Linked DNA regions of Homo sapiens: all the other regions are reported to be linked to region 4. The links are microRNA targets in miRTarBase. Many come from high-throughput screens and were not tested one by one. Region 4 holds a microRNA gene; each other region holds the end of a gene's coding sequence.

Evidence for each region. Region 4 holds the annotated microRNA hsa-miR-4524a-3p (UGAGACAGGCUUAUGCUGCUAU, at 2,950-2,971, opposite strand). A microRNA usually pairs through its seed, bases 2 to 8, with sites in the 3' UTR of a target mRNA and lowers its output. Matches are read on the target gene's strand: a 7mer-m8 pairs with bases 2 to 8, a 7mer-A1 pairs with bases 2 to 7 and ends in A, and an 8mer does both.
Region 1: the mRNA of CCPG1 is a reported target of hsa-miR-4524a-3p. The part of its 3' UTR that is shown has no 7-base or 8-base seed match.
Region 2: miRTarBase lists CNKSR3 as a target of hsa-miR-4524a-3p. Seed matches in the 3' UTR shown: 7mer-m8 at 2,952-2,958 and 8mer at 3,110-3,117.
Region 3: the mRNA of ODAPH is a reported target of hsa-miR-4524a-3p. The part of its 3' UTR that is shown has no 7-base or 8-base seed match.

The regions. Positions count from the first base shown.
Region 1 is chr15:55,351,883-55,356,882 of GRCh38, reverse strand. It overlaps CCPG1 (cell cycle progression 1), which reads left to right. Exons shown (of 9, transcript NM_001204450.2): 9 at 474-1,644. The coding sequence ends at 663. It overlaps PIGB (phosphatidylinositol glycan anchor biosynthesis class B), which reads right to left. Exons shown (of 12, transcript NM_004855.5): 11 at 1,905-2,085; 12 at 1,235-1,597. The coding sequence ends at 1,451. It overlaps DNAAF4-CCPG1 (DNAAF4-CCPG1 readthrough (NMD candidate)), which reads left to right. Exons shown (of 16, transcript NR_037923.1): 16 at 474-1,660. Among named protein-coding and RNA genes, the nearest start is that of MIR628, 19 kb to the left of the region's middle. RefSeq lists an enhancer at 3,440-4,083.
Region 2 is chr6:154,402,130-154,407,333 of GRCh38, reverse strand. CNKSR3 (CNKSR family member 3) reads left to right here. Exons shown (of 13, transcript NM_173515.4): 13 at 682-5,204. The coding sequence ends at 980. Among named protein-coding and RNA genes, the nearest start is that of IPCEF1, 48 kb to the right of the region's middle.
Region 3 is chr4:75,563,543-75,568,746 of GRCh38, reverse strand. ODAPH (odontogenesis associated phosphoprotein) reads right to left here. Exons shown (of 2, transcript NM_178497.5): 2 at 3,930-4,633. The coding sequence ends at 4,308. Among named protein-coding and RNA genes, the nearest start is that of ODAPH, 10 kb to the right of the region's middle.
Region 4 is chr17:69,096,621-69,101,824 of GRCh38, forward strand. It overlaps MIR4524A (microRNA 4524a), which reads right to left and starts at 3,012; the gene lies at 2,944-3,012. ABCA6 (ATP binding cassette subfamily A member 6) reads right to left here. Exons shown (of 39, transcript NM_080284.3): 22 at 4,177-4,314; 23 at 1,300-1,407; 24 at 8-181. MIR4524B (microRNA 4524b) reads left to right here and starts at 2,922; the gene lies at 2,922-3,036.

The sequences.
Region 1 (5,000 bases), not on the chromosome of region 4:
AGTGAAGTAGTGACGGAAGCCTGATCATAGACATTAAGGAAAGCGGTGTAGGTGTTGTGAGCTTTTGCTGTAAGAAAAAGTTGAGACTTTTGTTTTGCTTTGTTTGTGAGAGATGTGTATGTATTTCTGCTGAGTGATAAAGCCAGCGGGGAGGGACTGATTTTTATAGGAAAGGAGGAAAAATAATGGAAACACATCTCATTATTTTATTGTCACATTTCTTTTCTTTGTTATCTTTTGAGTGTTTCCCTTTTTTGCCAGTAGAGTTATTGTCTATTTTTTCTTTCTATAGGACAAAAAAACTAATACAGACTCCTTTATTTTTATATGGATATACTAGGATTGTAATTCAGATATTTAATATCTTTTATCAGTGTTCAGATCATAGATTAATGGAGAAAACATTTAAAATTGTTTTAAATTTAAATACATTGAACTCTAACATAGATGAAAAATGTGTTTACTGCTTTCAGTCGACCTGATAAAAAGCAACGTATGGTAAATATTGAAAACTCCAGGCATCGAAAACAAGAGCAGAAGCACCTTCAGCCACAGCCTTATAAAAGGGAAGGTAAATGGCATAAATATGGTCGCACTAATGGAAGACAAATGGCAAATCTTGAAATAGAATTGGGGCAATTACCTTTTGATCCTCAATACTGATTCACAATTGAGTTAAATTAGACAACTGTAAGAGAAAAATTTATGCTTTGTATAATGTTTGGTATTGAAACTAATGAAATTACCAAGATGACAATGTCTTTTCTTTTGTTTCTAAGTATCAGTTTGATAACTTTATATTATTCCTCAGAAGCATTAGTTAAAAGTCTACTAACCTGCATTTTCCTGTAGTTTAGCTTCGTTGAATTTTTTTTGACACTGGAAATGTTCAACTGTAGTTTTATTAAGGAAGCCAGGCATGCAACAGATTTTGTGCATGAAATGAGACTTCCTTTCAGTGTAAGAGCTTAAAGCAAGCTCAGTCATACATGACAAAGTGTAATTAACACTGATGTTTGTGTTAAATTTGCAGCAGAGCTTGAGAAAAGTACATTGTTCTGGAATTTCATCATTAACATTTTATAATCTTACACTCACTTCTTGTCTTTTTGTGGGTTCAAGAGCCCTCTGACTTGTGAAGAATTTGCTGCCCTCTTAAGAGCTTGCTGACTTGTTTTCTTGTGAAATTTTTTGCACATCTGAATATCGTGGAAGAAACAATAAAACTACACCATGAGGAAAACTAAAGGTCTTTATTTAAAATCTGGCATTGTATTAACATGTAATTTTATACTATGTGGTATTTTATACATTTCCTCAGTAGTGATATTTGGTAAAGCAGTTCATACAGCTTTTTTCTAAGTTCCATGAATCTTACCCAGTGTTTACCGAAGTATTTAAGCAGCATCTGAATATTTCCACCCAGCAATGTTAATTTATCTAGGAAAGTTCAGAATTTCATCTTCATGTTGAATTTCCCTTTTAACTTCCGTTCATAGACATATATGTGACTTCCAATTCGACCCTCTGGCAAGTGAGTGTGGAAGAAAACAGCAGTTCTTTTATAATTGCTTGAAATTAGGAAAGCGCTTATTTCCTAGAAGCAAATAAATGTTTAAGTAAATAAAGGCTACATTTTGCTGAGTACTGTTTCAGTCAATTTTAGAATTGCCTATTCTAATTGCTGTCTACAACTTTTTGCTTAATAAAAGAATTAACTTATAGGAAGTAAAATACTTTGATAGTTACAGAACTGGGGCTAATTTTGACTGGAGAAAAGACTAATTATGAAATGTGGGTTGAAACAGACCATAAAAAGGTTATATTATCTATTTACCTGAGGGTTTCCTAAACCTGGGGTAAAATTAAAATACTGAGTTTTCCTCTTTTTCATGTTTACTTACCTCTTCCAAAATGCTGAAGGTGATCAAGTGAGTAGGCAATGATGCATCATCATGAAACTCTCTATGTAACCAGTTTAAGGGATTTAGGTAAAATACATCTGCTTCATCAAGATAATGACTTTTTCCAGTCAGGTCTGGCGGGCACTGGAGAAATCTCATGGGAAGTGGGCAGTGAACATGGCTATGAAAAGAAAAGTTACCATAATAAATACAAGTAAAACATGAAAGTTTTCATTAGTCTTAAGATATGTCATTTATACTTAGCAAAATGTGAAATCTGAATCTGTAAACTGTGTTGCAGTTAAGTGAAGAAGCAAGCCTTTAACTCATTTTCTCAAAGATAAAAAAAACATGATTCTTATACCATGTACCTATGCAGCAGCAGCAGTATAACCTATAAGCCCAAACTAGTGCATAGAAGTCCATTTCAAGGAGGGAAGTAGGTCAGTAGGGGGACTCAACATTCTGTAGCATTGGTATTCTGTTCCGGAAACATAAATGGTCCTCAGGACCAGGTAAGTTAACTTGTTAATAGGAGAGTAATTCTCCATAGGTGTATTTGATAAAGTAGGAAACTGTGATCATAATCAGAAAGGATTCTTTCTCTCTTCCCTTTCTGCTCTGATAGGGGATGGATCACATACTTATATGGCAAGTTTTTTTTTTTTGAAGACAAGAGTTTCGCTCTCGTCACCCAGGCTGGAGTGCAATGGCGCAATCTCAGCTCACTGCAACCTCCACCTCCCAGCAATTCTCCTGTCTCAGCCTCCCAAGTAGCTGGGATTACAGGCGCCCGCCAACCACGCCTGGCTGATTTTTGTATTTTTTTAGTAGAGATGGGGTTTCACCATGTTGGCCAGGCTGGTCCTGAACTCCTAACCTCAGGTGATCCACCCGCCTCAGCCTTCCAAAGTGCTGGGATTACAGGTGTGAGCCACCACGCCCAGCCACATGGCAAGTTTGAAGTGTTTTTTTTTTTTATTTAAGATGATTGAGAAGTAGAGAGCAACATATGTCCACTGATTAACATCCAAATAAGTAATGGTTTTATTGTGGCATAGAAAGACTAGAGTAGGCCGGGTGCAGTGGCTTATGCCTGTAATCCCAGAACTTTGGGAGGCCAAGGCATGTGGATCACTGGAGGTCAGGAGTTCAAGACCAGCCTGGCCAACATGGTGAAACCCTGTATCTACTAAAAGTACAAAAATTAGCCGGGCATGGTGGTATGTGCCTGTAGTTCCAGCTACTCAAGAGGCTGAGGCAGGACAATTTCTTGAACCCAGAAGACGGAGGTTGCAGTGAGCTGAGATCATACGCCACTGCACTCCAGCCTGGGCGACAGAGCAAGAGTCTGTCTCAAAACAAAAAAAAGATTAGAGTATAAAAAAGATGGATTCATTTCTAATACCAGTTATGACAATTTAAGCCAGTTACTTAGGTCATGCAAAAAGCCATGTTTATAATTGCCTTAGGAAAAATTAAACCTCACTGATACAAACATTTAAAATTTCCAGTTAGAAATGGAGTTAGTAATTATGCAGGAGGTTTATTTATGAAATGCATAAAAATTAAATGTACACAAGACCTAATAGTGATTTATTTATTGGAAATGAAGGTCTTGTTTCAAAGGGAAGCAGAAATTCCTCAGAAAAAGCTGCCGGCCTACTCTAGTCTTTCTATGCCACAGTAAAGCCATTACTTATTTGGATGTTAATCAAGGGACAGATGTTGCTCTCTACTTCCAAGTCTGATGCAAAATAGGCATCAGACTTTCCTCTCTTGTGTGCTTTGAAAAGGTGTGGAGAACTTGGTGAACTATTCAAAGCCTAAGACATCAACTGACTACAGTTAAGTATAAAGAACATCTTGGTACATCTAGGATTCCTGTTCTCCTCAGTATTATCCCTAATGTGAGCACGGAGAGTGAATGTCCCTTTTTCAGCCACATATACATATAGTAGGGAATCCTCAAGTTGAAAGGATACTTGATGTCTTCCTTTTAGCCTGTGGTTTTTGCTAGGATCTCCATTTTTCTAAACTGTATATTAATTACTGGCATTAATGATTAGTTAAATAGGAGTATTCCAAGTGTTAAATTCCCCTAAAATGATAACCACTGTAATTAAATTAATTGAACGTGCATAGGAGACATTAACTCCAGATTGTTTAAAGCCAGACTGAGTTAAATAGTTATAGATTTTATGTATTTATTTATTTATTTTTAGGTTGAGTCTCGCTCTGTCGCCCAGGTTGGAGTGCAATGGTATGACCTCAGCTCACTGCAACCTCCGCCTCCCGAGTAGCTAGGACTACAGGCATGCGCCACAACACCTGGCCAATTTTTTTTGTATTTTAGTAGAGTCAGGGGTTCACCATGTGGCCCAGGCTAGTCTCAAACTCCTGAGCTCAGGCAGTCTGCCCGCCTCGGCCTCACAAAGTGCTAGGATTACAGGCGTGAGCCACAACGCCCAGCCTGGTATATAATTTTCTGTAGGAAATCTGGCTCCTTTGCCCCTATACCATTACTGGGTAATTAGTAACTAATACAGCTTCCTGAAATAAAGCACAGGAACAAATGGATGTCTTTTTAAAGGCCATACATAGTTGAGGCAATTTTAGTATATTTCCCAGAAACACTTAATTCAAGCATTAGAATATCATCTAGTCGCATTCCCTAATTTTTTACAGGTGAGACAACTGATGTCCAAAGAGATTAAAAATCTAGTTTAAGGCCGGGTGCGGTGGCTCACGCCTGTAATCCCAGCGCTTTGGGGAGGCTGAGGTGGGCGGATCACCTGAGGTCGGGAGTTCGAGATCAGCCTGACCAACATGGAGAAACCCTGTCTCCAATAAAAATACAAAATTAGCCGGGCATGGTGGCACATTCCTGTAATCTTAGCTACTCAGGAGGCTGAGGCAGGAGAATCGCTTGAACCCGGGAGGCAGAGGTTGTAGTGAGCCAAGATCACGCCATTGCACTCCAGCCTGGGCAACAAGAGCAAAACTCCATCTAAAAAAAAAAAAAAAGAAGTCTAGTTTAAGATGAGGGCAATAATCCAGTAGTAAATCTGGACTAAAATCCATGTTTTTTTTTTT
Region 2 (5,204 bases), not on the chromosome of region 4:
TTAGGGCAGGATCACTCTTTTCCTTGTTCGGGAATGTTCCTGAATGCCCAGCTTGAATGCCCTGCATTAAACAATGCATAAACAGTTCTGTTCAGCCATCGCGGGGACACTACACTCTATGGTCCCCACCCACTAAAGGAGACCCGTGTGCTACCTCTCAGGCGCTAAAGCAGCCTAAAGTATGAGGGACCCTTCCCATTTCTGCTTCCAGAGCACCCATTGGTGGGCCCAGCCACAGGTGGGACCTTGTGGCCAATCCAGGGAGGAGAGCAGTAAAGGTATGGTGCCCACATTCAGGGTGGTGGCAGAAGTCTGGGCAGGCCGAGGGCCCTCCAAAGAGCACTGTGTAGGGGATTGTGATTTTTTTTTTTTTTTCCTGGAGGGGACAGAGTCTCGCTCTGTCAACAGCCTGGAGTGCAGTGGCGCGATCTTGGCTCACTGCAACCTCCGCCTCTCGGGTTCAAACGTTTCTCTGAGTAGCTGGGACTACAGGCGCCCGCCACCACGCCAGCTAATTTTTGTATTTTCAGTAGAGACGGGGTTTCACCATGTTGGCCAGGATGGTCTAGATCTCTTGACCTCGTGATCCACCCACCTCGACCTCCCAAAGTGCGGAGATTACAGGTGTGAGCCACCACGCCCGGCTGGGATTGTGACTTAATGGACTTTGTCTGGAAACAGGGGAGGATGCCCTTTGCCGGTATTTCAGTAACGAGCGGATTCCTCCGATCATTGAAGAGAGCTCCTCTCCCCCATACCGGTTCTCCAGACCCACGACCGAGCGGCATCTGGTCCGGGGTGCGGACTACATCCGAGGAAGCAGGTGCTACATCAACTCAGATCTCCACAGCAGCGCCACGATTCCATTCCAGGAGGAAGGGACCAAAAAGAAATCTGGCTCCTCAGCTACGAAGTCCTCGTCCACAGAACCGTCCCTCCTGGTCAGCTGGTTTACGCGCCTCAAACTGTTGACTCACTGAGAGGGACCCTGCTCAGGCCACCTGCCTGGCTCCTGCCCCAAGTGCCTTGCTTTTACAGTGGACAGCCTCTTCTCGTTTCAGCCTCAGTATTATGTAGGGACCTTATGCAATTTCTTTTTCTTTTGAAAAGTTATCTACTGCCCTTCTTGGAAGTTTGCAGGATTGGATGGGAACAAATTCAGAGGATCTTAGGTGCTGGCTTGTGGAGACAAAAGGAGGGAAATGGGTAGAGCCTGTTTGTCTTGCTTCCCCAGAGATAGAATGTGAAGACACGCGCTAGAAATCGCAGTCCTGGCCAGAGACGTTATGGTCATTGTGAGGGACTGGTGGCATTGTTCCTTTTTGAGGGGCTGGGGGGACTCAAATTGGTGGCTGTTTTCACACAGATGTGTTGGTTTGTGGTCCAACTTCTTTATCTGAAAAAGCCAGTGAGAAAACATTTTTGATTTGATTTTTCTAAACTATCTACCATATTTTAAGTGTAGCAGCTTTGACTTTGCAATAACGTGGCAAGTATCTGATTTCTCCTTTGAGGCAGAGGTTTAAGTGTAGGCCTGTTACACTTGTTTGATACCTTTTTCATGACAGTCTCAGTATAGATCAGTTGGTACAGAAATACATGAACACATTTTGATAGGGCTTATTTCACACAAAGAAGTTTATGGTTATTTGTGTGGGGTGGTGTTGTTATATATTATTGTCTTTAAGGGAAAAGAAGCTATAAGATTCGCTGACAGCCAAAGTATCATTTAGAAAAGTGAAGCAACAAGATTTAGGTTGATGAAAGATACATGAGTTTGCATTTTGACCTGTTCAGTGTCTGTCTTCCAGCACGGTGTGTACACTTCTTCAAAATTGTACACAGTTTGCTAATTAGAAATATCTTGGAAAGCCTCATGGTCACTAATTTTCAACTAGCATCAGGTATTTTGAAAACGTGTGTCTGGATATTAACTCTTGTTTAAACTGAATGTATGATATTTTGTTAGAATGGAAAAGTACTATCTTGTTAATTTAAGTATTTTAAATATAGTTGTATATTTTTCTTACTCTTAGTCACCTGTAATTGAAATATTTCTGTTTTGCGTCATACACGAAGCTAGTGAAAAAGAAAGTGCAAGGCATTTTCAGATGAGCAAGTGACTATCGTGGCTGTTGCCAGCAGGGCAGTATTGTTAAAAAAAATCAAAATAAACCCTCCCAAGCATTTTGGGATTTTATGGATTAGAAATGGAAGAACAGGAGAAGCATATGCAAAGTGAAATTGCACGAGGGGAATTTTCTGAGGTATCTTCCTAGGCAGAGCCGAAATCTCCTACTCCAAAATGCCCTTTCTCATACCACCGGAATTGTTGAGTTTGCTGAACTGCCTGGAATTCAGCCCATGAAAATCACTGGAGTTAGGAAACATCTTCCCTTTAAAATGCTTCTGGTGTGGTTAAAGGAACTAGCAACCACTCATGTATAATTACTGTGACTGAATTCAGTCAGGCTGGTTTTTTTTGTTTGTTTGTTTGTTTTTGAGATGGAGTCTCAATCTGTCACCCAGGCTGGAGTGCAGTGGCGCAATCTCAGCTCACTGCAACCTCCACCTTCCAGGTTCAAGCGATTCTCCTGCCTCAGCCTCCCATGTAGCTGGGATTATAGGTGCCCGCCACCATGCCTGGCTAATTTTTGTATTTTTAGTGGAGACGGGGTTTCACTACGTTGGCCAGGCTGGTCTCAAACTCCCAACCTCAACTGATCTGCCGGCCTCAGCCTCCCAAAGTGCTGGGATTACAGGCATGAGCCACCACACCCGGCTCAGTCTGGCTGTTTTCTTCTCTACCTCTAAGACAACTGCCATGAAGATCTGGTATTTCGGCCTGGCGCAGTGGCTCATGCCTGTAATTCCAGAACTTTGGGGGGCCAAGGTGGGTGGATTACCTGGGGTCAGGAGTTCAAGACCAGCCTGGCCAACATGGTGAAACCCTGTCTCTACTAAAAATCAGCTTCGCATGGTGGTGGGCACCTGTAGTCCCAGCTACTCGGGAGGCTGAGGCAGGAGAATCACTTGAACCCTGGAGGCGGAGGTTGTAGTGAGCCAAGATCAGGCCACTGCACTCCAGCCTGGGTGACAGAAGGAGACTCTGTCTCAAAAAAAAAACAAAAAGAAAAAGATCTGGTATTTCATGGAGACATGGAGACCCAAGGGTGTTTGGCAGATGGAGAGAAGAGGCTTGCAGTGTGTGACCACAGGGTGTTCAACACACTAGGAGGGTGGGGTGTGGGCTGGGGAGGTCTCGTGTAGGGCACTGGTGATGAGGAGGGAGCTGTGTACGAGGGGCGAGCCAGCCCTGCCTGTTTTACTCTTGTCTTGAGCTGGCTTTATGCCCAGGAAGTGGGTGGCAACATCTCCTCTTACTCCCCAGATTGTGGGGAGAACTCTAAGAGCTGTAGTTCCACTGGATGATGAGTTAAATCACTCTGGAGGCCTTAGCTGGCTGGTGAGCTCTTTTTCTGTGGGGAAAATGCCACTTGTGAATTGAACAGCCATCCTTTAAGTGAATATTCGGCAGTCAGTCTTCATTATAGGCAGTGGCCAACCAGATTGGTGCTTTTCAGCCTTTGTTCCCTGGAGTCCCAGGACCCGCGAGAGAAGTTCCTGGCTCCTCTACTTGCAGTCACCCTCCACAGCTTCATCTTTCTTTTTATTTGAGGTTTTCTCCTGAATTGTGTTTGAAAAATATATTGCTGCTAAAAAAAAAAAACCTTTGTAAACCTCTACTATGGACATACATAAATAATAGTTTAATATGGATTTCTTAGAAATTAATGGAAACTGCTTGCCTCAGTAGTAATCCAGGTTTAATTGTGGACGTGTGTTCACATATGAAGTTGCTTGATGATGCTTTTTGACAGGATTCTTTATTTTTATTTCTTTAAAAAAAATTTTTTTTTTTTTCTGAGACAGATTCTCACTCTGTCACCCAGGCTAGAGTGCAGTGGTACAATCTCAACTCACTGCAGCCTCTGCCTCCCAGGTTCAGGCAATTCTCCTGCCTCAGCCTCCCAAGTAGCTGGGATTACAGGTGCCCGCCACCACACCTGGCTAATTTTTGTATTTTTAGTAGAGATGGAGTTTCACCATGTTGGCCAGGCTGATCTTGAACTCCTTGACAGGATACTTTACAAGAGTGATTGTTAAAACTCTCCCAGACACAACTCAACACCTACCCCTATTATAATATTTTATAGCATCACTTTTCAATCTTCAAATGAAAATCATGGATGATGAAGCTTACCTTCACTCATAAAAACATCACTCCATTTACTATTCTGAAATGAAACTAGCAGGTAATATAACTAGCCTCTAAAACATACCCATCAGTGACGTTCTAACTGAAACAGATAAGATATTTTATAATGAAATAATTATTTTCATATGTACATATTCTAGCATGGTTATATTACAAGATGTAATTAAACTACTAAGCAGGGCACATACTTTGTATGTGTGTGTATAAATATAAATATGTGAAAAATCACCATGAATGTGGTAGTTACCAATTCAGACCTGCTGCATTGGCAGTTCAATACCAGGAAAGGGGTCGATGTCAGCAGTATGATTTTCTAAAATGTGGCCAATTCTTTAGATAAAGTTCTAGGCATACCTAGTCTGTAATGGCTTCACTCATATAGTGCTTGCTGTGTGCCTGGCATTGTTCTAATACCTTTCTAATAAATCTATGAGGTGAGTACTGCTGTTAGTCCCGTTTTGCATATGAGGGAGTTACCCAGGTTATGTGCTAGTCATCCTGGTTATGTGCTAATAATGGCAGAGCTGGGATTAAAATGAAAGCAGCCTGGCTCTGGCTTTCTTGCTCATAATCACTCAGTATATAGGCTTCCTTCCATTTATAGAATTCTCTCATTGCATTCTTGAAAAATCCAAAGCATATTAAAACTGGGCTGAAAATTCTGTGTGTTTATATATAAAATGAAATGAGATCATAGATTTGTTATTGTAAACTGAGTTCCCATCTATATGAATATTGGGCGGGGCAATTGAAAGTTGTGTTGATGAGTCAGCTCTTTGTTGTGAGGGCTGTAAGCTGCAGGGCTTGTGTATCACGCATGCTCCAACAGGTTAAATCTCAGTAGTGGCCGCCCATCAGTGGCACCCCTAACATGCTCACATTTCCAGAACTGCCTCTTGGGCGGAGGTGGGGGAGGGTACCATCT
Region 3 (5,204 bases), not on the chromosome of region 4:
GACAAGGGCGAAACTCCATCTCAAAAAAAAAAAGGTGCTTGAGCATTGTAACCCTGTCTTCTTTAGAATCAGAGCCAGGTTTCTCTAGATTATGTAGCTGCTCTGGGAGTTTGTAGTTACTGCTATGAAAATTGGATACTTCTTGTTATGGACTGAAGTGTGTTCCCCCAAATTCACATGTTGAAGGCTTAGCCTCCTCAATACTTCACCATGTGACTGTTTGGAGATGGAGCCTTTAAAGAGGTGATTACTTTTTTTTTTTTTTTTTGATGGAGTCTTGCTCTGTCGCCCAGGTTGGAGTGCAGTGGCGCAATCTCGGCTCACTGCAAGCTCCGCCTCCCAGGATCACGCCATTCTCCTGCCTCAGCCTCCTGAGTAGCTGGGACTACAGGTGCCCACCACCATGCCTGGCTAATTTTTTGTATTTTTGATAGAGATGGGATTTCACCTTGTTAGCCAGGATGGTCTCGATCTCCTGACCTCATGATCCACCCACCTCGGCCTCACCAAAGAGGTGATTAATTTAAAATGAGGCTGTTAGGAAGGGCCCTAATCCAATCTGACTTGTGTCTTTATAAGAAGAAGAAATCTAGTCACACAAGAGAGACACCAGTAGCACATGTACACAGAGAAATGACCATGTGAAGAGGAGGAAGAGGGTGGCCATCTGCAAGACAGGGAGAGAGGCCTCACAGGAAACAAAGTAGGAAGCAGGAATGGACTCCAGAGGCGGGGCTTAGACATCAGACCAGATTGAGGACTAGCTAAAACAGGGGTGGAAAGTGAGGAGGAAGCACCCTTCAATACCCTTCAATCAGACACACCCACCAGTGTGCTGTGTCAATTTACCATTGTCATGGCAACACCCAGGAGTTACTGCCCCTTTCCATGGCACTGACCCAATGACCCAAAATTTACTACCCCTTCCCTACAAACTTCCCGAATAAGTCACCCCTTAATCTGCATGGACTTACAAGTGAGTATAAATATGACTGCAAAACTGCCCTGGGGTACTACTCTCTGCCTACAGGGTAGCCTTGCTCTGCAGGAGCAGTCACAAAGCTGTAACACTGCCTCTTCAATAAAGCTGTTTCCTTCTACCTCTGGCTTGCCCTTGAATTCTTTCCTAGGCAAAGCCAAGAACCCTCACAGGCTAAGCCCCACTTTGGGGCTCACCTGCCTTACATCAAAACCAACCCTGATGGCACTTTGATCTTAGACTTCTAGCCTCCAGAAATACATTTCTGTTGTTTAAGCCACCCAGTCTGACACTTTGTTATGGGAGCCCTAGCAAGCTAGTAGACCTCCTCAAATAATTTTTAAATATTGTTCTTGAAATAATATCGAACTCTAGAAGAGCTGCAAGAATAGTACAAACAACTCCCATATACCCTTTAGTCAAATACATCAACTGGAAAAACATTTGCCACATGTGGTTTATTACTTCCCATCTGTCTGCCTATCTATATATCTATCTATGTATCTATCTATCATATATATGCACATATCTGCATATCTATGCATATTTTTCCTGAATCTTTTGAGATTTAGTTGCAGAGATCATACTTATTTACCCTTAAATGCTTCAAAATCTATTTCCTTAAGAACAGGAATGTTCTCTTACAGAATTATGAAATTCAGGAAGTTTAACATTGACAGAATACTATTACCCAATACATGGTCCAAATTTAAAATTTGTCAGTTGTCCCAGTTATGCCAAAATGTCCTGTCCCTCCCCTTCTGACCTCCAGGATCTAATCGGAGATCACATATTGCACTGAATTGTCATCCACTTCAATCTCCTTTAATCTTTGTCTTTCATGACATCTACATTTTTGAAGATGCCAGTTTTGCAAATGTTCCTTAATTTGAGTTTTTTTTTGATGATTAGATTCAGGTTATGTGTTTTGGGCATAATTAGAACTTTAGACTTACAATACTATTGTTGTAATTCCTGCCTCAAAAGAAAAAAAATGCATTGAAGAGTTATTATACCCATCCCACAGACTCCCATTGCTTCAAAAACAGCTAGTCGAAAGGAACTAATTTGAGAAACTAATTCACATGGAGGTATTAGTGGTTCCACATTATCCTTCTAATTCAATAAACCTGCTAGGAATCTCTGTATTTAAAAAGTGAATTTATGAATCCAAAGGAATGATGCAAATTTTTCTAAGTCACAAAAGCATATTCTTCCCTCCCCCAAATAAGCCTTTTGCACTCCTAGGCCTATACTTTTAATAGCAGGTGTGGGCTGCTTCTCATATTCTATACATGTTCCAGGGTGAGGAATAATGCAATTTTACCTAGAGCTATGTTGAAAGGCCCTTACTCTGAAACACTGTAGGAGTAGCCTGCCTTCTATAATTAATGCAGTGATTAATGCATCGAAGCTGTTCATCCATCATTAGTTTGTCTTAGTTTACCTGAGGCTGGCATATTACTTAGCAAGTCCTTCAAGGACTAGATTTCAGAACGATTAAATTTTGAATTGCAAAAGTTCTAACATTTGGGAAGAGAAAGCCCAGTCAAAGGTAGGTTAGTTTTTGGCAGTTGCTGGCACTATGAGGACACTGAGTACCTAGGTGAGTGGTGAGCATGCCGGAATAAAGGAGGAGAGTCAGAAGGGGAGGTGGGTTTCAAATACAAACCTTTATCTGTCTTCAAGTTTGCCTGAAGCTGGCCCTTTTCTGGTATGTCCCCATCAACCAAAAAAAAGAGAGCAGGTAGGGTTTATTTCAAAATATAGTTTTGTTTTGTTTTTCTGAAGAGACTTTCAAGTAGGTTTTTATTGAAGCCTGTAAATTTGAAGCAAAAATCTATTCTTAAAATGAATATTTTCTAGAATGTGAATTAAATAGTTTTTTTCTTTTTTGATCATTTTAATAAAGCAAAGAAACATAGCATGATGATTTTATCTCTCTTTCCTTTTTTAGGGCAACCATTCCCAAAGTCCTTTCATGTCTTCATCCTGATTTTTTTTTTTCTGTTTTTGTAGCAGCAGCAGCAACAGCAACTTTTGCATGTAGATCTTGGGAGGAAAAAGTGCAAACCACTGACCACATATGCAGAACTAAAGTTCTTATGTTACAGGCAAGATAAGTGGCATAAACAGGAAGATGTGTTTTACAGAGTGGCCAAAACAAATAACCAATCAATGCAATCTGTGGGATTTGTTTCTCATATTGCACCCTGAGAATACAAGGTTCCAAGAGTTGAGTGAACTTATCTCTGTGGAGTTCTAGAGGTACCAGAATATTCTTGTAGCAGTTTAATCAGGCATTTTGAACCTGGAATTACGTTAAAAGTTTGAGAGGAAGTATATTATTTTAGCCAGCATCTATGTAATGATAACGGGAAACAGTGAGAAAATTATCAAATTAATTTGCATCAGTTGAAGTCAACATTAAAGTAAATTTAGATACTATAGTTTAAAAGTAATTATTTGGGGCTGGGCGCAGTGACTCATGCCTGTAATCCCAGCACTCTGGGAGGCCGAGGTGGGTGGATCACCTGAGGTCAGGAGTTCGAGACCAGCCTGGCCAACATGGTGAAACCCCATCTCTACTAAAAATACAAAAAATTGGCCAGGCTTGGTAGCGAGCACCTATAATCCCAGCTACTTGGGAGGCTGAGGCAAGAGAATTGCTTGAACCCGGGAGGCAGAGGTTGCAGTGAGCCGAGACAGCACCACTAAACTCCAGCCTGGGTAACAAGAGTGAAATTCTGTCTCCAAGAAAATAATAATAATTATTATTATTTGGGTTAGACAAGTCAGTTTATATCTTTAAAGTATTAGCTACAGTCAGACTCCTCATAACTTTTTAATTGCTTTAAGCTTTATAATTTCTTTTAAAGTTTACTTTGTCAATGCACCTTGCTCTGTATGTTTTCCAATGAGTATAAAAACGGTGTCATCAGTTTCTTCGTGTGGTTTATAATGATCTCAATTTATTTAAATCCTGTTTAATTTAGAGGAGGAGATGGATTCTCTCAGCATCTTAGTATGGATAGGAATTACTAGAGCCACCCATTTAAAGATTTTATTTGCATAAATATCCTGTGACCATAAGAGGTTGAGGATAAAAATAACGTGGTTATTGTCCAATTTTGCAACCATCAATAACCTATGATCCAATATCTTCACTGCTGACAAAGAGAACAGTTTCTAGTCAGTGATGTTTAGGATACTTAATCTTCAAATCCAATAGTTTTAGTTTCGAAAGATAAAACAGAAATCTTTTTGTTGCTTTTTTCTGAAGGATAGGCTTTTTTTTGCTTCAGTATGTTTGGGTTTCTCTTCCCTCTCAGCTTTCCTCAGATGAGCTTCCTCTCTGGAGTCTTCTTCTGGGGAAATACCTATAAGTAAGGTAACGGTGTGGCCAATAAAATGGCTGGAATGGAAAACGGTGGTTACACCTTGAAGGGACGAAAGGTCTGTTTGGAAACCTAAAATGGATTCTGGGCCTTCGTGGAAAAAAATGGAAGGGACACCTGGGTGTCTTTGTGATGGGCTGGGCCCTTGTGACCGGACTCCTCGGGGCAGGTGGAGGGGTGAGTGTAAAGATCTGGCAGTCGGTAGCGTCCGCATTATTTTGTGAATCTCCAGGAGGCGTAAATACCTCTTCTTGTCCTGTGGAGAGGAAAACGCAAGTCAGGAAACAGGTCTGGTAACAGAAGCAGAAGAGTGGTTTAGAGTGGTGGCAGAGGAGAAAGATGGGAAGAGAGAATTAGAGAAATCTCAATGTATATTTGAAAGAACTGCCAACGTTCAATGAAATGAGACACAGACACACTGGATGACCCAGCATTGCCACTGTGGGGAATTTACCCAAGAGAAATGAATGATTATGTCTATAAAAAGACTTGTTCGGGGTGTTCACAGTAGCCTTATTCATAATAGCCTAAATGGAAACAATCTAAGTGTCCATCAACAGAAGAATGCATGAAGAAACTGTGTATATTCATACAATGAAATAGTACTCAGCGATAAAAAGGAAGAACTACTAATACCCACAACATGGATACATCCCATGAATGTTGAGCAATAGAAGTTAGACACAGAAATGTACATACTGTACGACTCCCTTTATATGAAGTTCAAAAACAAGCAAAACTAATCTATAGTTAAGAAAAAGTCAAAATAATAATTCAGCTTAGGGAAAGGATAGGTATTTTTTAGCAGAAAGTGTAGCCAGGGACCA
Region 4 (5,204 bases):
TACTTACCAAAGCAAACACAATTTGGCTTGTAATAAGAAGGTACTGCATGTTTTCTATGTAGAAAATTAAATACATTAAAAGGAGAATTAAAATGAAGAAGCTGACGTCCACTAGTGCCTGCCCACACCAGTAAGCAGAAGTGTAGAGGCCTGAAATCCATAGCTGGGACTTAGCATTTTTCTGATTAAAAAAAAAAAGAAAGAAAGAAATGTATATAGATTCAATTAAAATGCAAATCTAAAATAAACACAAACACATTGGAAGAATTTTTAAGATAAATATAATCTAATCTTCTAATATTAAAAAAAATTATGCATATACTGCTTAGTAACATGAGGCTTATAGAGCCAGTTCCATGGTTTACAAGGTGTCTATCAAAAATAAAATGTATACTGTGATAGGCCTGACTCATAACACAACTTTAGCTCATGAATAATGAAAAGTGGACCTCATAATGTTCAAGGCATTAAACTCTATAAAAATAAGTATTGGCCAGCATGGTGGCTCACGCCTGTAATCCCAGCACTTTGGGAGGCCAAGGCGGGTGGATCACAAGGTCAGGGGATTGAGGCCATCCTGGCTAACATGGTGAAAGCCCATTTTGACTAAAAACACAAAAAGTAGTTGGGCATGGTGGTGCAAGCCTGTAATCCCATCTACTCAGGAGGCTGAGGCAGAAGAACTGCTTGAACCCGGGAGGCGGAGTTTGCAGTGAACCGATTTTGCACCATTGCACTCCAGCCTGGGCAACAGAGTGAGACTCCATCTCAAAAAAAAAAAAAAAAAAGTATTATTTTGTGACCTGGAGGACATAATACATTTACCTTTACCTAAACATCTTGGAGAGTTTCTGGCTCAGGATGGTGAACGTTGATAGATTTAACTGCTTTGTCTGAATAATGGGCATAATCGAATACAAATATAACATAAAATTGCAATTTCCAGAGTGGAAAAGGAATTCAAGTCTTAAATTTGGCCTTTGATTTCAACATCAATGATTTCCTTCTTGTGGCTGGGAAATAATGTGGTCAAAAGATTTATAATATTTCCCTTTGAAGGTTTAGACTAATTGGAGTCTCTGAAAAATCACTGTACTTTTCAGGTGACTTTGGAATAAAAAGCATTTTGAGTTTTTAGAAGTAAATTATCTGACTTGCCAAGAATAAGGTTTAGCTACAATATCTAAATTAAACATACATTCAAATGTTTTTGTCAGAAGAAAACATTTTGAACACATAGCATTCAAAATACAGATATTGAAATTCCTGAAATTTCTTCTTTTCCCTGCTTTTTCTTACCTTGTAATCACTGATGCTGCCCATGGTGATATAAGGAGAAATGCTACATAGAACCAAAAATAAGAAAAAGGAACCATCCGGCAACCCAGTCCAGAGTCCTATGTGGCTCTGAAAATATAAAGGGTAGCTTAAACTAGTGAATATTTGTTAAATGAAACAAATAATTATAGCCACAAAAATGCACTTTTTGAAATGTTGAAAAATCAAAGTAAAGGTGTAGCTCATTACCATCTAGGCACGAAGGTGGGAGGGAAAGTGACTCTGATCTTCAACTCAAAGAACAAAGAGAAGTCAAAAGTCATTTAGGACCTACTTCTGGGGATATTTCCAAAAGAATTGAAAGCAAGCTCTCGAAGAGATACCCTCACATTCATATTCATACCAACAATACTCACAAGTGGAAGCAACCCAAAAGTCCAAATTAATGGATTAACAAAATGTGTATGTATATACAAACAATGGATACTATTCAACCTTAAAAAGGATCACTTGAGGTCAGGAGTCTGAACCAGCCTGACCAACATGGTGAAACCCCATCTCTACTAAAAATACAAAATCAGCCAGGTGTGGTGGTAAATGTCTGTAATCCCAGCAACTTGGGAGGCTGAGGCAGGAGAATCGCTTGAATCTGGGAGGCAGAGGTTGCAGTGAGCAGAGATCGCCCCATTGCACTGCAGCCTGAGCAACAAGAACAAAACTCGGTCTCAAAAAAAAAAAAAAAAAAAAAAGAAGGAAATCCTGTCACATGCTACAACATAGACGAACCTGGAAAATATGCTAAGTGAAATAAACCAGTTACAAAAAGACAAATATTCCACTTATATAAGGTTTCTAAACTAGTAATATTCATAGAAACATAATAGGATGGTTATTTCCAGGGGATGGGGGAGGGGGAAAGCTAATTGGCATCGAGTTTCAATTCCGCAAGACGGCAAAGTTCTGGAGATGCATTTCACAACAATGTGAATATACTTAATACTACTCAACTGTACACTTGCAAACAGCTAAAATGGTCAATTTTATATCATGTATTATTACCACAACAAAAAAACAATAATTCAGAAGTTAGGACCTCTGATGAACATATAATTCAGGCCTGAGTAGCACGTCTTTCTGAGCAAACCCAGAGATGGAAACCTCAGTAGCTGGGTGGATGTGTTCTGAAGCACAGAACCAAGAAGAAAACTTGTTGCTGCTTGTCTTAACTTCAGGGAAAGGAACTTTAAATCACTACCCCCAAATCAGCATCCACTTGAGGCTAGGCCAAGTGGACACTCTAGCAGCATCTAGGACCACCTCATGGATATAATTACAGGATAACAGCATGAGCCTGTCTCAAAATAATTCCACAATTATTTAACTTTATTTAAGACTTTGAGGGCTATGTCTATAAATTCTGTTTTTCATCATAGGAATGAGGGAGGAAAGGTGTGTGCCATGGGGAAGTGGGAGTGGGGAACAGGTTTCTAATAGAGTAGCTATGGGCTTCAGTCCATTTTGATCCTGAGCAAACACAATGGCATTAGGAAGCTAATAATTCAGAAGTTAGGACCTTTGATGAACACATAATTCAGGCCTGAGCAGCATGTCTTTCTGAGCAAACCCAGAGATGGAAACCTCAGTAGCTGGGTGGATGTGTTCTTTTGAAGGATAGCAGCATAAGCCTGTCTCAAAATAATTCTGCAGTGAGACAGGTTCATGCTGCTATCGTTCCAAAGAGGAAGGGTAATCACTGTCTCTTTCTGCTACTCCTCTGGTTCCACTTTCTGGAGAATTCCCTTCAGACACCCCTTCCCTCGAGTCATCCTGTGCAGCAGACCTGTTTACGTGATCAGTCGGTCATACTCAACTCACGGAGGTATGTGTCTGTCACGAACATCTCAAGTACTGTATATTTCATCCCCATTGTTCCCATGGCTTACAGAAAACCTGTGCTTGCATATACTCCCAGCACCACTGATTCAGTGAAGCCAAAACTGAGCTTCACACTTTTGTCACAAAATGGACTTCCCTTTGGATGGCTTCATTTCTAATCCTGCTTCTTGATGTTTCAGACTTCTGGTGTGAAACAGTTGGAGTCAGCTTTGAGACACCCCTGTTGGTATCAGGCAGGGTCTAACCAGAAAACCATGACTACGTTAAGTTCTTAGAGTGCAATTCCTTATGACATGGTTAGGTGGGTGATGAGCATCCCACAAAGATGGTGAAGTGAGAAGCAAGCTATTGTTGCTTCTGGGCTTCAGGAACAGCAGAAGGAGGTGATGTGACTGGAGCCCAATGTAGGGGGTCCTCTGCTCTTCTGTCTCCCACCACTGCTTTCTAGTGTCCAAACTGTCTGAAGCCAGACTATAGCCAACTGACACAGAATCCAATGCAGCCTGTGTGTATTAGGCTCCCTCACAACATAGAGCAACTATGAGTAGGTGAATAAATAAATCAACAGATAGCCCCAGAACTGGCAGATTCTCCTTCATATTAGTCTGTCTACTACACATTTAGTCAATGGAGGGTCCACTAACTAATTATAATAGATTTATATGTAACCAGGGTTACAAGTTCTCCTGATTTCCAAGTCAGTGTTTTCTTTTTTCTGTTTCTCTTTCTCATACACTTCCACAATCAAGTATGTACAACTTTTCAAAACATTGCCTAGAAGACTGACAAAATATTGAAAAGTATTCCCTCACGATAATTATCTGATAACTTGGCAGGAAAAAAAAATCCTGTTTTGTTTGCTATAACCCATTGAAAATATTAGGATAAAATAATAATTTTCAGGCTTAACAATCACTTATGGATATTTAAAAGCTAAAGAGAGAAAACATAGGCTATTTGTCCAATTCTTAATTGTTTAGACTCAGTAAATCCAATACTTACAAGAGGAAATGGGCTTGACTCAATTCGAATATGTTGTGTGTGATTAAACATTTGAAGTAGCCCATTGCTGATAATATTCATAAGAATTGGAAAACAGTGCAATCTCTTGGTATTACACACAACTGAAAATCTATAATCCTTAAAACAGAAACAAATAAATAATGTTAATGCTAAATTCTTAAAGAACAAAGGCAAGGTTTATGTATAAAAGATCCTAACAGTGCCACATGCTTGTTGTGTGTCCATCTTCAAGTGAACTAAACTTTCTGAGCTTTACCTTCCTCATCTATGAAAAGGAAATACTAAATGGGTTGTTATAGGGCTTAAATGACACTCTATTCATGTACATTAAGCTCTAGCACAGAGTCAGCATACAATCAATATGAATTTTTATTTGTATTACTAATTTTAGATAATTTTGTCTCCATTTTGCTGATGGGGAAATTTCATTTAGTAGAGTTTAAAAGTCTCCCTGACAAGGAGATGCTGTCAGTTTATGATGAAGAAGCAAAGGAAGATTGGGCATGGTGGCTCACACCTGTAATTCTAGCACTTTGGGAGGCCAAGGCGGGCAGATCACTTGAGGTTAGGAGTTTGAGACTAGCCTGGCCAACATAGCAAAACCCTATGTTTACTAAAAAATACAAAAATTAGCCAGGTGTGGTGGCACACATCTGTAATCCCAGCTACTTGGAAGGCTGAGGCAGAAGAATCACTTAAACTCAGAAGGCAGAGGTTGTAGTGAGCTGCGATCACACCACTGCACTCCAGCCTGGGTGACAGAGCGAGACTCTGTCTCAAAAAAAAAAAAAAAAGCAGCAGCAGCAGCAAAGGAATGCTGGCCTTCTGGATAGGAGATAAGCATGGAGTTCATTAAATATTCATCCTTACCCTGCCAAAGAAGCATTTCCCCACTTCCTAAAGCAATCTTTATATTTATGTACTTCATGTTTAGGAAAATGTTCATTAATCTATTAGAAGGTTTATTGTTTAAATCTTACCACTAGTTCATGTAGTAAATATGTGAG